Homo sapiens: one gene and its partner. The protein of the gene in region 1 purifies or fractionates together with the protein of each later gene. This does not show direct contact. Each region holds a gene or a part of one and is shown on either strand. Other genes may lie near its edges.

Region 1 (3,754 bases):
CCATACTGCCCAAGGTAATTTATAGATTCAATGCCATCCCCATCAAGCTACCAATGACTTTCTTCACAGAATTGGAAAAAACTACTTTAAAGTTCATATGGAACCAAAAAAGAGCCCGCATTGCCAAGTCAATCCTAAGCCAAAAGAACAAAGCTGGAGGCATCACACTACCTGACTTCAAACTATACTACAAGGCTACAGTAACCAAAACAGCATGGTACTGGTACCAAAACAGAGATATAGATCAATGGAACACAACAGAGCCCTCAGAAATAATGCCGCATATCTACAACTATCTGATCTTTGACAAACCTGAGAAAAACAAGCAATGGGGAAAGGATTCCCTATTTAATAAATGGTGCTGGGAAAACTGGCTAGCCATATGTAGAAAGCTGAAACTGGATCCCTTCCTTACACCTTATACAAAAATCAATTCAAGATGGATTAAAGATTTAAACGTTAAACCTAAAACCATAAAAACCCTAGAAGAAAACCTAGGCATTACCATTCAGGACATAGGCGTGGGCAAGGACTTCATGTCCAAAACACCAAAAGCAATGGCAACAAAAGACAAAATTGACAAATGAGATCTAATTAAACTAAAGAGCTTCTGCACAGCAAAAGAAACTACCATCAGAGTGAACAGGCAACCTACAACATGGGAGAAAATTTTCGCATCCTACTCATCTGACAAAGGGCTAATATCCAGAATCTACAATGAACTCAAACAAATTTACAAGAAAAAAACAAACAACCCCATCAAAAAGTGGGCGAAGGACATGAACAGACACTTCTCAAAAGAAGACATTTATGCAGCCAAAAAACACATGAAGAAATGCTCATCATCACTGGCCATCAGAGAAATGCAAATCAAAACCACTATGAGATATCATCTCACACCAGTTAGAATGGCAATCATTAAAAAGTCAGGAAACAACAGGTGCTGGAGAGGATGTGGAGAAATAGGAACACTTTTACACTGTTGGTGGGACTGTAAACTAGTTCAACCATTGTGGAAGTCAGTGTGGCGATTCCTCAGGGATCTAGAACTAGAAATACCATTTGACCCAGCCATCCCATTACTGGGTATATACCCAAATGAGTATAAATCATGCTGCTATAAAGACACATGCACACGTATGTTTATTGCGGCACTATTCACAATAGCAAAGACTTGGAACCAACCCAAATGTCCAACAATGATAGACTGGATTAAGAAAATGTGGCACATATACACCATGGAATACTATGCAGCCATAAAAAATGATGAGTTCATATCCTTTGTAGGGACATGGATGAAATTGGAAACCATCATTCTCAGTAAACTATCGCAAGAACAAAAAACCAAACACCGCATATTCTCACTCATAGATGGGAATTGAACAATGAGATCACATGGACACAGGAAGGGGAATATCACACTCTGGGGACTGTGGTGGGGTTGGGGGAGGGGGGAGGGATAGTATTGGGAGATATACCTAATGCTAGATGACACATTAGTGGGTGCAGCGCACCAGCATGGCACATGTATACATATGTAACTAACCTGCACAATGTGCACATGTACCCTAAAACTTAGAGTATAATAAAAAAAATAAAATAAAATAAAATAAAAATAAATGAAAAAAAAAAAAACAAAAAACAAAAAAAGAAAAAAAAAAAAAAAAGACCCAAACAGGCCAATAACTATTAGTTATTATCTCTACTGAAAAAGTGGGACTTCCTGTTATGAATAAGGGAACTAACTGAATTCCCTGCTACCTAATTACCTTCTGTAGCTATACTTACTGACAAAAACACCATTAATTTTTTTAGATACCAATTTTTTTTAATACTATGAATCTTAAGGGAAAATGGCTTCACCTCAAAAATACTCTGTTACTTGCTTGGAAGATAGACGACTTTAAGCTGATGCTGATAAACTTGTGGCTTCCAAAGTTTTCCTTACTAATTCTAAACCCAAAAGGTGCCTGGCAGTCTCTGCTATGTCTGTTTCAAGTAACCCTAGCTCTATATCAGGAGACATTTTCCTTATAAACAGAAACATGGTAAATCTTAAGTTCCCTGCAATTGAAATGCTTGGCTGTGAATTTGATTTCATAATCAGAGCGGACTCTATAGTCTTTTCATTCAATATTCCTGCAATTAGATAACCAATCGCAGCCTAGAAACAACCTCCAAGGAGACCCAGTGACATTGCTCCCATAGTTGATGCAACAATCACCATGATGACCCAAGCTTTAATCACTCTGATGAACACTGCTCTCCTGCCTAGAGATACCACTGAGTCCAGAAGCAAGACCTGTGAGAGTGCACAGTGCCACTTCGCCCCATGGCTGAAGATGGTTTGCCCAAAATTTATTCTCATCCTCCAACAGAAAGCAGTAAAACACCAACTGCAGCAACCATTTTCTTTGGGGCTGACAATGCTATTCCCAAATCAGAAACAACTATTACTTCAGAAGGAGACCACGTCACTTCAGTAAATGAATATATGCTAGAAAGCGATTTTTCAACAACTACAGACAACAAACTGACAGCTAAAAAGGAAAAACTCAAATCAGAAGATGATATGGGGACCGACTTTATTAAGTCAACAACTCACCTACAGAAAGAAATTACCTCTCTGACTGGCACTACAAACTCCATAACAAGAGACTCTATTACCGAACATTTCATGCCAGTGAAAATTGGGAATATTTCATCACCAGTTACTACTGTTTCTTTAATAGATTTTTCCACTGACATAGCAAAAGAAGATATCCTCTTAGCTACCATTGACACAGGAGATGCAGAGATCTCAATAACCTCTGAAGTCTCTGGCACACTAAAGGACAGCAGTGCTGGTGTTGCTGACGCTCCTGCCTTTCCACGTAAAAAGGATGAAGCTGATATGAGCAATTATAATTCCTCCATCAAATCCAATGTCCCTGCTGATGAGGCTGTCCAGGTCACTGATTCCACTATTCCTGAGGCTGAAATCCCTCCTGCTCCTGAAGAAAGCTTCACTACTATTCCAGACATAACTGCCCTTGAAGAAGAGAAAATAACCGAAATTGACCTAAGTGTTTTAGAAGATGACACCAGTGCTGTGGCTACATTAACTGACTCTGATGAGAAGTTTATCACTGTGTTTGAACTCACTACCTCTGCTGAAAAAGACAAAGATAAACGGGAAGATACTCTGCTAACTGATGAAGAAACTACCGAGGGAGCCAGTATTTGGATGGAGAGAGATACTGCAAATGAAGCAGAGACCCATTCTGTTTTGCTTACTGCTGTTGAATCCAGATATGACTTCGTTGTCCCTGCATCAATAGCTACAAACCTAGTGGAAGAATCATCTACAGAAGAAGATTTGTCTGAAACTGATAATACAGAGACTGTACCTAAGATCACTGAGCCATTTTCTGGAACTACCTCTGTATTAGATACCCCAGACTATAAGGAAGACACCTCCACAACTGAAACGGATATCTTTGAACTACTGAAAGAAGAACCCGATGAGTTCATGATTTAAAAGCAACAAAAGGGATACCATGTAGAATTGTGCAATAGTCTAGCCAGCTAGCCTTAACATCTAAGAAATTTTTCCAACAAGCAAAAACCTTTAGAAATGAAAGAATGTGGGCATTTAAGGCAAGTATTCGACTCAATAAATGCAGATGCTTAGGACTACAGGTCATGTAACAGATTTACGGAAACTTAGAAAAAAAAACCGCAGTGTAAGGGTCCCCCTAGTATCACAAAGTTT
Region 2 (3,754 bases), on another chromosome or scaffold:
GTAGGAGGGGAAGCCAGAGCCGTGGGAGGGGCTAGCTATGGACTGCATGCCTCTCCCTACGACTGAATTGAGCATCCTGTGAAAGGTTTGCAGTGGGGGAGGGACACAGACTGATTTGTGCTTTGGGAAGGACACTCTGGCTGTGTGTGTATAGAAGCAATGAAGGGGAAGGGGGTGCAGGGTGAGGAGTCAGAGACTAGGCGGAGGCTGCTGAGGTGACTGCTGTTGGGATGGGAAGAGCAGCTCAGATGCCTTTCTTTTCTTTTCTTTTTTTTTTGGGAGTCTCACCCTGTCCCCCAGGCTGGAGTGCAGTGGCATGATCTCGGCTCACTGCAACCTCCGCCTCCCGGGTTCAAGTGATTCTCCTGCCTCAGCCTCCTGAGTAGCTGGGACTACAGGCGCGTGCCACCACGCCCGGCTAATTTTTTGTATTTTTAGTAGAGATGGGGTTTCACCGTGTTAGCCAGGATGGTCTCGATCTCCTGACCTTGTGATCCGCCCGCCTCGGTCTCCCAAAGTGCTGGGATTACAGGCGTGAGCCACTGCACCCTGCTAGATGCTGTATTTTCTTATGGGGAGGGTCTGTTAGCAGGGGCCATCCTGACACTGCCTTGTGGCCAGGAAGGAGACAAACGAAGGCTGGCGTTTCTTTTTCTTTCTGCGTCTGCCTTACGTTGTGATCTTTGTTTAAAACTTATTCAGAATGGAAATGCTAAATTCCAGAGTAACAAAGAGTTTGTTGAACTCGTTAGAGTTACACATGATAGGATTTAACATTGTATTGAGATGTGTCAATAACATTCATTTACTTAGAAACGTCACATCTTCTGGATTTCCAGAGGAGTTTTATTCTTGATAAGTTTGCTTTCTTGATGAGGGAAAGTTTAATCCAGCTGCAGTTTTTCTTTAAAAAAAAAATCATCTATCTTAAGAAATATAACATTTAAAGGTTAGATGTATTTAAAAATGATAAAAGGAATACTTTGGTACAGTTTCTTTGGTTTCTGAGTTGATTAGGGACTCAGAAGCCTTTGCATTATTTAGTGGTATATCCTTGCCAATATTTAAAGAGCTGTTAGTGAGCACCCCAGGCCCTGCTCTCTGGAAGCTTTCCTAAAGCTTGCCCTGAAATAGCGAGGATGAACGTCTTGTTTGCTAAAGCCAAATGGTTGGCTAATAAGACTCAGCATAGCTGTCTTTATAAAATAATAAGAGGTTTGATGTTAAGAAGTGGAAGATAATTGATTTTTTTAAAAAGCTGAAACATAAACTTCCTTATGCTAATGTTACAACTGGAAAATCTAAAAAGAAAAATCCAACTGTAACATTGCCTACGTGAAAGACATGGTAGAAGTCCTTACGTACCGATCACCTTTAAACAAATTGCTTGGCAGTACATTTTTGAAATTAAGACCACTCCAGCTCACATAACTGGCAATGATTATTGCTGACTTAAAATTATAGAGCCTACAGTTGCCTTCTTAGCATTTTTAGTAGTGAGAGAATTGAATAGTGCTTAGTCAGAGTGCTTTCTGGGTGGGAGTTGTATAGTAATAAAGATACATTTTCATGTATTTTCTAGACATTACAAGAAGCGGTGCCAAGGCCGCATGCGGAAGCACGTGGGGGACCTGTGCCTGCAGGCAGGGATGCTGCAGGACTCCCTGGTGCATTACCACATGTCGGTGGAGCTGCTGCGTTCTGTGAATGACTTTCTGTGGCTTGGAGGTAAGATGAGCTGATGAAGATGATCTGATATGTAATTGTTTCAACTGTTAATTAAAATGAGAGGCTGGGTGCGGTGGCTCACGCCTGTAATCCCAGCACTTTGGGAGGCTACGGCAGGCCAAATATGAGGTCAAGAGATTGAGACCATCCTGGCCAACATGGTGAAACCACGTCTCTACTAAAAATACAAAAATTAGCTGGGCGTGGTGGCACGCGCCTATAGTCCCAGCTACTCGGGAGGCGGAGGCAGCAGAATTTCTTGAACCAGGAGGCAGAAGTTGCAGTGAGCAGAGGTTGCACAACTGCACTCCAGCCTGGCAACAGAGCGAGACTCCATCTCAAAAAAAAATAAAATAAAATAAAAAAAGAAATGAGAGGAAACGGCAGAAGAAATTCCCCAAAAAGAAGGGATGAGGGAGGAAAAGCAGCCAGCCTGTGCTGGTTGCCACGAGCAGTGGCCTGGGATGCTTCCCTGCTGTATCTGCTGCCCTCCTCCCACCCTGCCATGCGTCCTCTGAAGGAGGCCCTGCCCACACTTTCCCTTTTCCTCTGTTCTTAGTATACCTTGCCCTCTGCTTTGGATGCCGTTCCCCATGATCTTCACCTCTTAGACTCCTCCCTCAAAACCTCCTCCATGTGTCACATGATGAATGGATAAACGAAATGTGGTATGGGCATACAGCGGAATATTATTCAGCCATGAAAAGGAGTGAAATTGTGATACCACTGCAGCACGGATGAACCTTGACAACTTTGTGCTAAGTGAGAGAAGGCAGGCATGAAAAAGGCCGCAGATTGTATGATTCTATATATATGAAGTGGCTAGAATAGGCAAATCTATAGAAGCAGAAAGTAGACAACTGGTTCTAGGGGCTGGGAGGAGGGGGAATGGGAAGTGACAGTTAACGGGCATAAGGTTTCTTTCTGGGGTGATGAAAATGTTCCAGAGTCAGTTAGTGGTGATGGTTGCACAGTTGTGAATATACTAAAAACTGCTGACTTGCACACTTTAAGTGGGTGAATTATATGGTATGTGAACTCTATGTCAATCTTAAAAATTAAAAGAAAGGGAAGAAGAAATCCTACTTCAAAGCACAGCCATCTCTGATCCCCCGCAGCAGTCGGCAGAGCGGGTGCCCTGCCTGAGATGTTGCTGACACTTCGTGGTGGAATCGGATGTCTGTGTGTGGTCTTCCCTTTGGGGACTGCGCCTCCTGGAGGTGGTCCTGGGAGGATGGACTGGCTGAGTCCATTGTGTGGGTAAGGACTAAAACAGGGTTCTTTCGTTGAGGTTGACAGTTTAGCAAGGACACCTGTCAGCCACTTATGATAATACAAGTCGGAATGAAGTAATGAGGTGAGTTCTGTAACAGAAGTTTAACGAGGTGCCGTAGAACATATTAAATATAACAAATTCTTTCGTTCTTGGGGACGGAGTCTCGCTCTGTTGCCCAGGCTGGAGTGCAGTGGCATGATCTTGGCTCACTGCAATCTCCGCCTCCTGGGTTCAAGCGATTCTCCTGCCTCAGCCTTCCGAGTAGCTGGGACTTACAGGCATGCACTACCACACCCGGCTAAATTTTCTATTTTTAGTAGAGACGGGGTTTTGCGATGTTGGCCGAGCTGCTCTTGAACTCGACCTCAGCTGATATGCCTGCCTTGGCCTCCCAGAGTGCTGGGATTACAGGCATAAGCCACTGTGCCCAGCCAAATATAAGAAATACTTCAAACGGCCAGGCATGGTGGCTCATGCCTGTAATCCCAACACTTCTACAAAAAATAAAAAATAAAAAAATCTTACTTCACCTCACTTCTACAAAACAAAATTAAAAAACATTAACTGGGTGGAGACCAGCCTGAGCAACATAGGGAGACCTCACTTCTACCAAAATAAAATAAAATAAAATAAAATAAAAAGACATTAGCTGGGCTTGGTGGTCTGTGCCTGTAGTCCCAGCTACTTGTGAGGGTGAGGCAGGAGGATCGCTTGGGCTCAGGAGGTCAAGGCTGCAGTGAGCCACGATCG

The links.
Region 2: the proteins of CABS1 (region 1) and TRAPPC9 purify together in Homo sapiens (affinity purification with mass spectrometry; 3 studies listed by BioGRID and IntAct, with this or other methods). This does not show direct contact.

The regions. Positions count from the first base shown.
Region 1 is NC_000004.12:70,332,708-70,336,461, forward strand, and holds the start of CABS1 (calcium-binding and spermatid-specific protein 1), read left to right. Parts: upstream 1-2,273; 5' UTR 2,274-2,332; coding exon 2,333-3,520; 3' UTR 3,521-3,639; intron 3,640-3,754.
Region 2 is NC_000008.11:140,437,026-140,440,779, reverse strand, and holds part of TRAPPC9 (trafficking protein particle complex subunit 9), read left to right. Parts: intron 1-1,582; coding exon 1,583-1,728; intron 1,729-3,754. UniProt on the Homo sapiens protein: Functions as an activator of NF-kappa-B through increased phosphorylation of the IKK complex. May function in neuronal cells differentiation. May play a role in vesicular transport from endoplasmic reticulum to Golgi.